Linked DNA regions of Homo sapiens: regions 2 and 3 are each linked to region 1. The links come from fine-mapping of genetic effects on gene expression. A gene starts in region 1. Each other region holds a variant in brackets. All regions are shown on one strand. Distances are from middle to middle.

Region 1 (4,228 bases):
TTTACGTTGCTGTCAGTTTTCTTCAATGCAGCTGTTTTCAAACATTTATGTTTTGCCCCTAAAGGAAACATTATATAAAGCTGAGCCCAGTGGTGCCCTAGAGTGGGGACTGGGCGAGCCAGGCCCCTCCTGTGCCCATTCCAGCCCACTGGAGACCACCAGGCTGCCCAGGACAGGGGGAGAGGCCCACCCCACCTGTTCCTTTATGAGCTTGGTGAGGCTTCCTTTAAAGCGGGCCCCCATACTGGCTTCCAGAAAGCAAGGTTTCTGATTACACACATCTGGGCCTGAAAACTCAGTTAAACCAAATGTAGAACTTGAGAAACAGGCCCTAGGACTTCGGGTGGAGCTCCAAGCCCTAATCACATGCCAGCCAGGGCATCTGTCGCCAGGGCTGGGGGAGGAGGCATTGCAAGAGGAATGGCAGCAGGAACTACAGGGCTCCAGGTGATGCTACCTACGGGGACGCCACCTCAGGTCTCACTGCCTAACATATGACAAGCACAGACCCTTCCTCCAAGTTCAAATGTTGTGTGATATGGTTTGGCTGTGTCCCCACCCAAATCTCATCTTGAATTCCCACGTGTTGTGGGAGGGACACGGTGGGAGGTAATTGAATCACGGGGGCAATGTAGTACAAGGGGAGAGTGACATTGGAGGGCTTCCCATCCACCTAAGCCCAGCCCAAACCACAGTCAGGGCAAACCACTTGCCCCACCCACTGCAGGATAAACCAAAGGCACAAGGTCACCCGGGTCCCCAAGTCAAAGCACATGTTTTCTGTCAGCTGCAGGCTCCTGAGCAAAAAGCATGTGCATTTGTGCTAGGCTGCATCTGCAGATACCACGGTCCTTGGACAATACAAAAATCAGGTGAGAACGCTGCCATTTGCCCACTGAGCACAGACTACGGGGAACTTGGCCACCGTGGTCACTCTGCAGTTTTCCCTTGAAGTGCTTTGCTTGGTGGAAGGTGTTCCACCAGCCAGTCCTTCTCAGGTCTTCTTAAGCCAACTTTTTTTCTTTTCCTTTCTTTTCTTTTCTTTTCTAAACATCTCGTTTTCTCTGAATCTGGTCATAACGAAAGGATAGCCTGTGCCTGCCTCCACGCCTCCTGCCCTACCCGGGTGGATGCCCGCGGCTCTGGGGCTCTCCCTATGCCCTGACTCTGGGGAGCCCCGGCTGGCATTGGCTCGCGAAGGTGACCTGCGGACAGACCAGTCAGAGATCACGTTGGCTGGTCGCGGCGCGGGCCACAAAGCTCAGCGGAGGTGGGGTAGGGGACCAAGCTGTCCCGGCGAGGGAAGAAACTGTTGCTTCCAAATCATTGCGGCTGGAGGAGCCGATCTGCGCCCCAGCGTGTTAGGACAAGGGCGGCGCGAGGGGCCCAGGGGCCAAATGGGGCGCTGGGCAGGAGGGGCTGTCTCCTGCAGGGGAGGAGGAATGGTCCCCTGCCAGGGACCTGGGGAAAGGTAATAGTCAGGAGGGGACCGGGCCGCAAGAAGCCCATCCTGGATTGCAGCACGGGCAGCCAGCGCGAATTCAGTCAGGAGGTCCACGGGGACCGGTAAACGAGAAGGGGATGCGGTGAGGACGCCGGACTGGCGTTTCTGCCGCGCTGACACCTCGACTGCTCCCTCCCCGCACCGCGTCCCCCAGCCTGAGACGGGGAAGCCACCCAGGGCACCGCGCTCCCAAACAGCGGGGAAAAGGCGCTCTGGGCGGCGGCTGAGTGACCGAGGGACCGGTCCGGAGCCAGGAGCTGGGAGGCGCGGGGATGTGGTGGGGAGGAGGGGAGTGGGGGCAGTGAGGGGGCTCAAATCCTGCGGGGACGCCCGCTTACCCTGCCGTTGCGGTCAGTCTCCTGCGCCTCCTCGACGCTCACCCCGCGCCGCACCAGCGTCCGCAGCAGCCCCACGTTGTTGGCGCAGGCGGCGCGCAGGAGGGTCGCCGTCTCCGGGACGCTTTCCGGGACGCCCTCCGGGACGCTCTCCGCGCTCTCGACGCCGTGCTCCTCCTCGTCCTCGAAAGGGTAGAAAGAGTCGTCCGAGGCGATGCTGCGGGTGTCTGGCAGACTCGAGAAGTCCTCAAACTCTTCGTAGTCAGCGGGGTCCTCCTCGACCTGCGCGCCCCGGGGTGGGGACGGCGGTGGTGGGGTCATGCAGCGCGCCCCGCCGCCCTCCGGCCCGGTCCCGGCCAGCAGCACCATGCCGGCGGCCGGGGCGCGGGCCGGGGGCCGGGGCGCGGGCAGGAAGAGCGGGACGCGGGGCGCGCGCCGAGGTCCCCGCTTCTCGCTTCTGCGTCCCCAGAGAAGCCGTGGCCCGCGCGCTCCAGCTCGGCGGAAACCGGCACCAGGCGGCTGCGCTCAAAGAAAAAAGTCTCCGGAGGCTGAGCGAGCCCCTGGGGTGGGCGGGACCGCGGGGGCTTTCCGAGGCGGGGCGGGGCGGGGCGCGGGGACACGCCTTCCCCCGGGGCCTTCCCCTCGCGCCCCTTCCTGGCCAGAGTTCAGAGCCAGGCAGGCGCTCTCTCGAGCGCGGGGACTGGGCACCTGGCAGCGTTGCCCCAGAGCTGGGGACAGCTGGCGCGGGAGAAGCAGAAGCAATCACTAAAGAAGCCGAACCCGAGTCGCGGGCGGCAAGCGGCCCCGCCCCTCCCTCCGCCGGCCCGCGGGATGGGGGCGGAGGTGGCGGCGGGGGGACGCCGGGGCGGAGCCGGCCTCCAGCTTCGGGAACCTCGGACCCCTGGAGCCGGCCTCCGCCGAGGGCGTCGGGCCCCCGGACCTGGGTGGGGCCGGTTTCTCCCGCCGCTTCAGAGGAGCAGAGCGGGTTTTCTCCCTTCGGGGGATCCCGGGCTTCGGGGCTGACTCCACCCGGCCGCGGCCGCTTGGAGGCCGGGGAATCCCCGGGGCGCTTGGCGGGCAGAGGAGCCGGGCGCGGGAGCGGAGCCGTCCACCTGGGACCTGTGCCCGGGGAGCGCTGCGGGCCGGGCCACTCTGAACTGGGGGCGGTCGGCTGCTGTGGGGGAGTCCCAGCCCGGAAGGGAGGACAATCCTCAGAGTCCCCCGTCTCGCGGAACCGGGGCCGGCCGTGGCTTGAGGGTTGGTCAGATCCTGGGATGGGGGGCGGGGTGTTCCGGAACCTCAGGGAGCATCTGAGTGGGAACGGACGACGAGGAACTCCCCGTCCCCATGCCTGGCCTGTGTCACGTGCGGGGATCTGCGGACTCACCCCCGGAGGCTGCGACTGGGCGCTGACCCCACGTCTGGCTGCCCAAAAGAGCAGGGCCGCGGGCGACAGCCGCAGTCCAGGCCCACAGCCCCTCTGGCCCGGCCTTGCCCTCTCCCCGTCAGTCCTGGCGCCGGGGATGGGCGGGGAGGAGGAGGGCGTGTGAGGATTTGCCACAGGGAGCCCTTGACTTCGGGGTAGGAGGCGTCGTGAGCCAATCTTGGGGGAAGGTCTCTGCGCAAAGGCGCGGAGGTGCGCTCGCGCCCGTCGCAGGTCAAAGACTGCGGAGGCCACCAGCCCTGTGTCCCCCTAGCCTCCTTCCTTCCTTTTTTTCCCCCGATCTTGACAGCGTGTCCACCAGCTGCCAGCCGGTGGGAGGCCCTCGCGGCCCCAAGGTGAACACAGCTAGGCTGGCGCAGCCGCTGGGGACCAGGCTTGAGGCCCACGTGCCGCTGGGCAAGCTGAGGGGCACGAGGGCACCGAATCCGAAACAGCCGTGGGAGGTGTAGGATGAGGACACGTTTAAACTGCGAAGCCGCTCGAGCCCTCGTGTCACACCGCACTGGCCCGACCCGCTGTCCTGGTCGCCTGGTCTTCCAGTGTCTCCAGCAGGAGCCAAAGGGCCTGCTGGCGGCCCCCGACCCGGCATCTGCAGGGCCCCGGAGGGTGGGGCGCGCGGGAGCACCGATTTCTGGTGAAGACGCCCTCGCACCTGGGCGGCTCTGAGCGAGCAGCGAACTGAGACTCGCTGGCCTCCTTCTCTACTCCGGGGATTCTTTCTGCAACCAAAAATAGCCCCCAGATTACAGTAAACTCTACCTTTTTGTGTAACTGACCACAGTTTGCATCAATTCCCACTGGGAATTTCCCCTTTCAAGGTTGAGGGTTGTTTCCAAAGGCCTGGGGTAGTTACAATTTCAAGTGCCCCCTGAGGGCTGAGTTGGGTTTGCTGGACCCACTGTCCTCCCAGGGAGAGCACTGCGTCACTTTACAGCAAGAGTCCCG
Region 2 (4,228 bases), 54 kb after region 1:
AAAGAAAGAAAGAAAGAAAGAAAGAAAGAAAGAAAGAAAGAAAGAAAAGAAAGAAGGGAGGGAGGGAGGGAGGGAGGGAAAGAAAGAAAGAGGAAAGGCAAGGCAAGGAAAGCACATCAGGCTGGGCACAGGGGCTCACGCCTGTAATCCCAACACTTTGGGAGGCTGAGGCGGGCAGATCACTGGAGGCCAGGAGTTCGAGACCAACCTGGCCAACGTGGTGAAACCCCCATCTCTACTAAAAATACAAAAGTTAGCCAGGCATGGTGGCACATGCCTGTAATTCCAGCAACTTGGGAGGCTGAGGCAAGAGACTAGCTTGAACCTGGGAGGTGGAGGTTGCAGTGAGCTGAGATTGCGCCACTGCACTCCAGCCTGGGCAACAGAGTGAGACTCATTTTCAAAAAAACAGAGAAGCACACCATCCCTCCATGTCTACAGTCTAGTGTATCCCATCCAAGGGAAGGTTTGTGAGACTGCTGTGTTGGGATGTGCAATGCAAGCTCTCGTTCCCACCGCTACGGCTGTCCAGCAGTTGTCCCTCCTGCTTTGGCCCCTCCTATCTGAGAGGATCTGGAAATCCATAATCTCCACTTAAAGACGGATTCAGGAAATCAGACCCAACCTCTCTAGGACATTTGCTGATCTTTTGTTAGAGGATTGAATGCTGCTAAACTTACCCTACTTGGCATTTTCTACTTGGACAAAAATCTCTTTGCTTCCTGGATGAGTCTGTAAATCCAGTTGGTGTCATTTATCGGTAACATATTAAAATGCTGAAGAGAATTCTTTATTTACTGGCAGGGGGCATTCATTTGGCAAATATTTACTGAGCATTGCAGATAATCATTATTATGATTGTTGTTCAGCAAATATTTATTGGATGCATGTTCTGTGCAAGGTACCATTGACAAACAGGAACACAGGAGATAGAGTGGATTAGATAGACACCGTGGCTCTGCACATGAGATTCCCATCTGTCTGCTAAGGAGGGTGACCAGCTGTCCTGGTTTGCTGGGAATTGAGGGGGTTTCTGGGATGTGGTACTTTCGGTGCTGAAGCAAATCTGGCCTAGCACAAACTAGACAAGTTGGTGGCCCCACTTAGCAGACAGCTGGTCATCCTATTGCTGAGACAGACACTAAAGAACTAACTTCATGGTTATTTATTCCTTGGAATTGTTGTCGGTATTGTGAAGGGAGTGCACAGTGCTGTGAGGGCTTCTAAAAGATCGAGAACACAGCCCCACCGAAGCCACTGCCTCTGGTGGCCCACTGGAACCACCCCCTAGGACCTAGACTGCTTTTTGGGGCTCACAGGGTGGGCCCCTGAGGCCTGTTGCCTCTGGAGCCAAGGCCAGAACTTCCTGTGGTATTCTAGAACAGCAATGGCCAAATGTTCCGGCGGAGGCCACTGCCACTGTGGATCTGCCCTGGCTTCCGCAGAGCCTGGTAGGGTCTCAGCAGAACACTCCCCACCACCCGGAGGAGACTTTCTCCGTGATGGGGCCATGCTGCCCTCCACTCCACAGTGCCAGGGAGGTTTGTGTGGGTAAGAGAGGCTGCATGGACTGAAATTGTGTCCCAAGAACTCATGTCTTTCCTGGAACTTCAGACTATGAACTTATTTGAAAAGAAGATCGTGGTGCATGTAATTAGTTAAATTATCATTATTATTACTGAGACAGAGTCTTGCTCTATCACCCAGGCTAGAGTGCAGTGGCGCCATCTTTGCTCACTGAAAACTCCACCTCTTGGGTTCAAGCGATTCTCCTGCCTCAGCTTCCTGAGTAGTTGGGATTATAGGCACATGCCACCATGCCTGGCTAATTTTTGTATTTTTAGTAGAGATGGGGTTTCACCATGTTGGCCAGGCATGTCTCGAACTCCTGACCTCAAGTGACCCACCCACCTCAGCCTCCCATAGTGCTGGGATTACAGGTGTGAGCCACCGCGCCCGGCCGCCTTTTTTCTTCAGCATTTCCCTTGAGTACCAGTTACTGCAAAGACCTCAGGAGTCGGGAGTTTGAGACCCCAGGCTGCTCTCAAACTCCCGACCTCAAGTGATCTGCCCTCCTTGGCCTCCCAAAGTGCTGGGATTACAGGTGTGAGTCACCACACTCAGCTGTAATTAGTTAAGTTAGGTCAGGGTCATAGTTGTGCAGGATGGACCCTTAATCCAATATGACTATCCAAGATACCCAGAGATAGTCACACAGGGAAGAACGCCACAAGGAAACAGAAGCAGAGATTCGAGCGATTTCGAGAAACAGAAGATTCGAGAGATGCAGCTGCAAGCCAAGGAATGCTAATGCTTGCTGGCAACCACTAGAAGCTAGGAAGAAGCCA[A/G]GAGAAATCTTTTCTGGAGGCTTCAGAGAGCACAGCCCTGCCAGCGTCTTGATTTTGGACTTCCGGCCTCCAGAACTGTGAAAGAATAAATTTCTGTCATGTTAAGCCACCCAGTTTGGGGTACTTTTTAAAGGACAGTTTTAGGAAACTAACACAGCCTAAGGAAACGAACGTTGCTGTTCCAAAAGCTGATAGATTATTGAGAACCAAGCTCTCTTCCCCGTTGCATCCCCTTCCCAAAAGCCCCCTCAGTGGGTTCCAGAAGCACCCCCAACCCTGCCAGTCACCCAGACACAGCCCTCACCGGGGTGGGCGTGAGCAGAGAATGACCACGCCCTCTCCCTACGCTCAGTGATGCCTGCCCCACACACTTTGTATTTTCCCTTATTTTGAAAGTTATCCATAAAAGAATGTGTATGTTTTATAATCAGAAGGAAAAAGTTTAAATGAGCAAACAGATTCTCTTTTGGCAAAACATACACAGGTTTCCTATTTCTGCTCCTCGTATAGCCGTAGCCATAGAGTGGACAAACATTATTATTTTCTAACCAATTTATTTTGTCTTGAATTATTTATGTATTATAAAATGAGCTGTTCAGGAAGTAAAATATAGACTCTTTCTTTCTTTCTTTCTTTCTTTCTTTCTTTCTCTTTCTCTCTTTCTCTCTGTCTGTCTCTCTCTTTTTCTCCTTTCTGTCTTGCTTCCTTTCTTTTCCTTTGGCATCTGGGGTTGTGTCCTGACTCCTCTTAACTCGGGCGGGGCTGAGCTGTGCAATCTGCTCAGCGCACCTCTCCACAGCTACGCTAACCCAGGTGACCTGCTTACACCGGCTTTTCCTCTTTAATCCCTGAGTTGAGGATGGAAAACACTGGCTGTTCTGATTTCATTAGGCGGGCAGATGGTATTTGCTAATCACGTAGACAGTCTCTTGAAGACGCCTGTTAAAATGAATGCTGCTCAACATGTTTGGTTCTGATTTACTACATCCCATAGATGGAAACATAAAGACAGAGAGGACCGTGAGAAAAACTGCAATGCTGATGAAGTATCACTCGGCCCTTTTCGTTTCATTCACTGGCTAATCATGAGATGTAGGGAGTGTCCAGCCTTTTCCATGTGTCGGGTATGCAGACAGGATGGAATGTGGTCTATGTATTAGTGAGGCTCCCATCATGGAGGAAGGGTGCAGGGCATACCTGGGCCTCCAGATACACCTGGGACAAAGCCAGGCTCCCTCTCCAGTGCTCATCTCCGCCTCTGTCTGAATTCAACTCCTCCTACTCTAGCCTGGCTCTTCCACAAGCAAGGACCCTCCAGGGGAAGAATGTGCTGCTTCCTCTCAAGCCCAGAAATCCCAGGGAAGGGCTCTAATTGGCCCCAATAGGGTCAGGTGCCCAGCTCTGACCAATCAGTGGTGGCCACGTGGGGAGAGTCTGTTAGATCATGGCAGCTCTCTTTAGAGCCATGTGGTTATGGTGGGAAGAAGGAACATCTCCCAGAAGAAGGTTGACTATTACCCTCAGCAGACAAAAGAGTCAATGTCCGCCACATCCCTGCTCCAGCGATCTGGGGTGAGGGTCAATTAAGGAATGTGAGGAGTGCTATGACCACCAGATGCACAAGGGCCTCTGTTAACAGGGAAAGCTGAGTTCTTCTCTTTAACACTGGCCGCCACTGGTTCTCTTTCATCCGAGGTTTGACAATAAAACTGAATAGCGAAAGTAGAGGTGGAGAGCCAGTGTTGCAAGAGAGCCTTAGTGTGGTGGGGAATTCCAGCTGATAGGGAAAGAGAGAGAGAGAGAGAGAGAGAGAGAGAGAGAGAGAGAGAGAGTGTGTGTGTGTGTGTGTGTGTGTGTGTGTGTGTGTGTGTGTGTGTGTG
Region 3 (4,228 bases), 27 kb before region 1:
GAATAAGAGTGAAAAAAAGCTTTAAATAAGGAATAGGTCTGTGACAATGAAGAGAATTCCTGCCCTTGGAGAGGAGAGAAAATCCCCGTGAGCTGACAGCTCCCACATGTGGTTACTCCTCGCTGTTGAGTCTCTAGGCTTTGCTCACTGCAGAGACTCTGGGACAGGTTCTGCCTTGCCACGGGACCAGAATTCGGCTCAGAGACAGCACAGGCCTTGGGTCTGAAAAAACTGTAGCTCAACAGCCAAGAGTAGTCTTGCAGCAGAAAAGGAGATGAACTATCCTTAAATGGCAGAGGGTTCATGAGGGGGTGAGGGTAAGTGAGTTGAGAGGGGTGGGGGTTGTGCTGGAATGGGGATCCAGGTGAGCCAGGGTCAGGGAAGTTGAGCCAGGGTGAGGGGTTGGGGAGTGAGTGGGTCATTGAGTCGGGGTCTGATGTTAGCCCCCCTGCCCGGGAGGAGAAGAGGTTGGAGAGAGGCTGGAGAGGTGAAGACTCAGAGCTCTGGAGGTGAGCTAGGGTTGGAGGAGTTGGGCTGGAGTCATGGTGAACAGGAGGTTGACCCAGGGTGGGGTTGGGATGAGCAGGGTAGGGTGTCGACTGAGACAGAGGTGAGGTACAGTACAAGGCAAGTTAAGGCACTAAAAAGTAAATGTCATACAACAAATGTGTAGATGACCCCTTTGAGAAGCTCCCCACTCAAATATCCAGTGTCTAAAGGGGAGGAAAGTATTCTGTCATTGCAGATGGGGTCGTACATTCATTGATGGTACAGGTTTTTGCTTTATTTTGTTTTTTCTTAAAAGAGTTAATAGCTAATGCTTTAAAAAAAAGTAAACAGAGCAAAATATATTATCTGCGATAATAATTTAAAATATGTTACTGCACAGAAAAAAAGAGAGTCCTATTATGCCAGTTGACTCAACTAATAATAGCTGTAGTGTTATAATATAAGGGTTAGTTGTTTTCTACTTTTAGAATCAAACTATAGATAAAGTTGAAATAATAAGCATAATTAAGATCCAAGAAAATGTTACTAGTCTCGTAAGTGGAAAGCTAGCGAAGACAATATGAGGGGTGGATACGGGGTGGTGGGAAAAGGTTAGGAAGGTCCTTACCTAACAGAGGAGAAGTCAGGAAATACCAGCTAGAATTGATGGAGAAGGAACTGGGGTTGAAATAACATATATAAGAAACTAAAAGAATACATATGAAAAAGGATGGGTGGATGGGTCTGATCAGAGGGGTGAAAAGGGCAAGTCAGCAAAAAACTCCACTACCATTGCACACAATCATCTCCACTGCCTCAAATGGACAAACCAAGAGTAGCTATGATGAGCAGGTTGCAACTGGCAGGGAGGGGACTGCCAGATGAAATGAAAGTGGGAACAGTGGCAAGAGACAGCTCTGAGGAGCAGACAGGTGGCCAAGAAGCCTGGGGTCTCTCACTGCAAGCTCATCTGCAGGATTCTATTTTCTTTTCTTTTTCTTCTTCTTTTTTTTTTTTTGACAGAGTCTCACTCTGTTGCCCAGGCTGGAGTGCAGTGGTGCAATCTCAGCTCAGCTCATTGCAACCTCCACCTCCCGGGTTCAAGCGATTCTCATGCTCAGCCTTCCAAGTAGCTGGGATTACAGCCGCCACCACGTCCACCTAATTTTTTTTTTTTTTTTTTTTTTTTT[TTA/A]GTAGAGATGGGGTTTCACCATGTTGGCCAGGCTAGTCTTAAACTCCTGACCTCAGGTGATCCGCCCGCCCTGGCCTCCCAAAGTGCTGGGATTACAGGCATGGGCGCCACCGCGCCCAGCCAGGATTCTATTTTCTATCACATATATGCTCTGTTTAACAAAAATAAGAGACAAGGAAAGTAGAATACTAACAAGAATAAAGTTTTCCCACAAATTGGTGAGAAGAAAATAAAGCAGATGGCCCAAAATAAGACCCTGTCTTTAAAGGGGAACATGTGTTAAAGGAGCAATCTGGGCAGTGATGGATGACTCAACCAACATTGCTGGAAAAGTTGATTACTGAGCAGTAAACACACACACACACACACACACACACCATAAAATCAAAAGATAATACAAAAGGACTAAAAAGTCAAGGGTATAATATATATACATACATACATACATACTTATATCCTAAAATAGTTTACTGATGGAGAAAAGAGATTCAAAAGCTAAAAATAATAAGATAACAATAAATATACAATGTAAGTTACTATATAAATACAATATTCCCTTATATCAAAATTATAAGTAAAATTGAAAGAAAAATGAAAAAGCAATCAAGATTAGTGACATTCACAGAATGATTTAAACAGAAATATTATATTGAATATCAGCATAAATACACCAAGAGTACAATTTTTCAAGGGTAAAGGAATGAGTAGAAAAACCAAAAAATAGCAAAAAGCCAGTAAATACATGTAAAATATACATAATCTTACTAGTAAGCAAAATAATGTAAATTAAAATATTAATGAGACACCATATGCTTAACAATAAATATTACATTTCAGATCTTCACAAAAGATGAATTCATTAATAGTTCTGGACAAAAGTCCCAGTCATACGGAAAAAAAATAAGGTTGGATCTTTATCTCACATCTCAGGCTGAAATGAATCATTAAATATTCAATCATAAAAACACTAAAAAGGCTCGGTGCGGGACAGCACTCTGGGAGGCCAAGGGTGGCAGATCAAGAGGTCAGGCGTTCGAGACTAGCCTGGCCAATATGGTGAAATCCTGTCTCTACCAAAAGTACAAAAAAAATTAGCCAGGCATGGTGGCACGCACCTGTTGTCCCAGCTACTCAGGAGGCTGAGGCAGGAGAATTGCTTGAAACTGGGAGGGGGAGGTTGCAGGGAGCCCACATGGTGCCACTGCACTCCAGCCTGGGCAACCGAATGAGACTCCATCTCAAAAAAAAAAAAAAACCACTAAAAAAAATGTAGATGACTATTTCTATAAACCTGGCTTAGAAACAGCATTTTGAAGCAATAGAGCAAGGCCGGAAACCATAAAGAAATAGATACATCTGACTGTATAAAAATTTAAACCTTCTCAGCAAAACAGTGTAAAGAAAGTAAAAAGGCAAATGACAGGGACTCTCACTTTCAGCTCTGAGAAACTGGCTTCAATCAGAGGCACTTTTCCCCTGAGAACAACTGAATACTTTTTTTCCCTAAATATCCATTTGGAGGCATCCAGTTTCCAAGACGACCAGGACTTGCAGGCCTGATTGTATTCCAGAAAGAAGGCGGAAATCCTGAGATAAGCTTCCATTCTCATGGCTTTCCCTAAGGGCATTTGCTGAGTAAGGCTGGGTGCTGAGAAACCAAGCAGAGAGCAGTAGTGAAGGGTAGGAGGAGCTAAGCAGAGTTGGTCATACTCTCGAGGGTTTGCAGGGAGGGGTATCCAATCTTTTGGCTTCCCTGGACCTCAATGGAAGAAGAATTGTCTTGGGCCACACATAAAATATACTAACACTAACACTGGCTGAAAACACACACACACACACACACGCGCGCGCGCGCGCGCGCATCTCAAAATATTTTAAGAAAGTCTACAAATTTGTGTTGGGCTGCATTCAAAGTCATCCTGGGCCTCATGTGGCCCGCAGGCCAGGGGTTGGATAAGCTTGGGTTAAGGAGACAAAAGTGGTATTCATGATCTGCCCAGGCCATATTTCTATAGGAAGCCAAAAGGGCTATATCCTACAAGACAGGCCAGAAAGAGGCCAGATCTTATAAAAACTACAACCTAGACTGCAATCTTCTGTCCCACTCTGTCTGCCAGAAGCAAACTAAATCCTCCCTGGACAAGATAACACAATCTAGTGCTACTTCAATTTTCATACACAATGTCTAGCATTCCAAAAATTACCAGATGTATCAGGAGACAGGGCCAAGAGAAAAACAGAAAATAGAAAACATCCCCAGAAGATCCAGAAATTAGAACGATCAAGCTTTAAAATAACTAATATGTAAAAGCAAATAATGACAAATGAGGAACTTTATTACAGAACTAGAATCAATAAAGAATCAAAAATTTTAGAAATACAGCATAATTGAAATTAAGAATGTAAAAAGCAATTAAATAGTAGATTAGGGTAAAGATATGATTAGTGAATCAAAAGATAAGTTTAATCAAAAATGCCCAGAAAATTAAAAAAAAAAAAGATTTAAAAGATAGGAAGAAAAGCATAACATACACAGGCAGCATGGTA

Which allele goes with the higher level. Alleles are on the strand shown, and positions count from the first base shown. SD is a standard deviation of normalised expression in the study named. Not every link is listed here.
For the expression in skeletal muscle of the gene that starts at base 2,606 in region 1, allele A in region 3 goes with a lower level than allele TTA (moderate effect, 0.73 SD a copy in FUSION).

Evidence for each region. PIP is the estimated chance that this variant, and not a neighbour inherited with it, causes the effect.
Region 2: its variant is the best candidate, but not a certain one, in a credible set for the expression of ANKRD33B in whole blood (TOPMed, PIP 0.88).
Region 3: its variant is the best candidate, but not a certain one, in a credible set for the expression of ANKRD33B in skeletal muscle (FUSION, PIP 0.85).

What each region holds. Positions count from the first base shown.
Region 1 is chr5:10,562,448-10,566,675 of GRCh38, reverse strand. ANKRD33B (ankyrin repeat domain 33B) reads right to left here and starts at 2,606. Exons shown (of 4, transcript NM_001164440.2): 1 at 1,843-2,606. The coding sequence starts at 2,208. RefSeq lists enhancers at 150-651, 943-1,032, 1,053-1,102, 1,423-1,632, 755-1,648 and 1 more and silencers at 753-802, 1,773-1,822, 2,163-3,022.
Region 2 is chr5:10,508,749-10,512,976 of GRCh38, reverse strand. All of the region lies in intron 1 of LINC02213 (long intergenic non-protein coding RNA 2213), which reads left to right. Among named protein-coding and RNA genes, the nearest start is that of LINC02212, 8.1 kb to the right of the region's middle. The variant A/G (reference allele first, on the strand shown) is at 2,349.
Region 3 is chr5:10,589,904-10,594,131 of GRCh38, reverse strand. The region is part of intron 1 of ANKRD33B (ankyrin repeat domain 33B); the gene reads right to left. Among named protein-coding and RNA genes, the nearest start is that of ANKRD33B, 28 kb to the right of the region's middle. The variant TTA/A (reference allele first, on the strand shown) is at 1,680.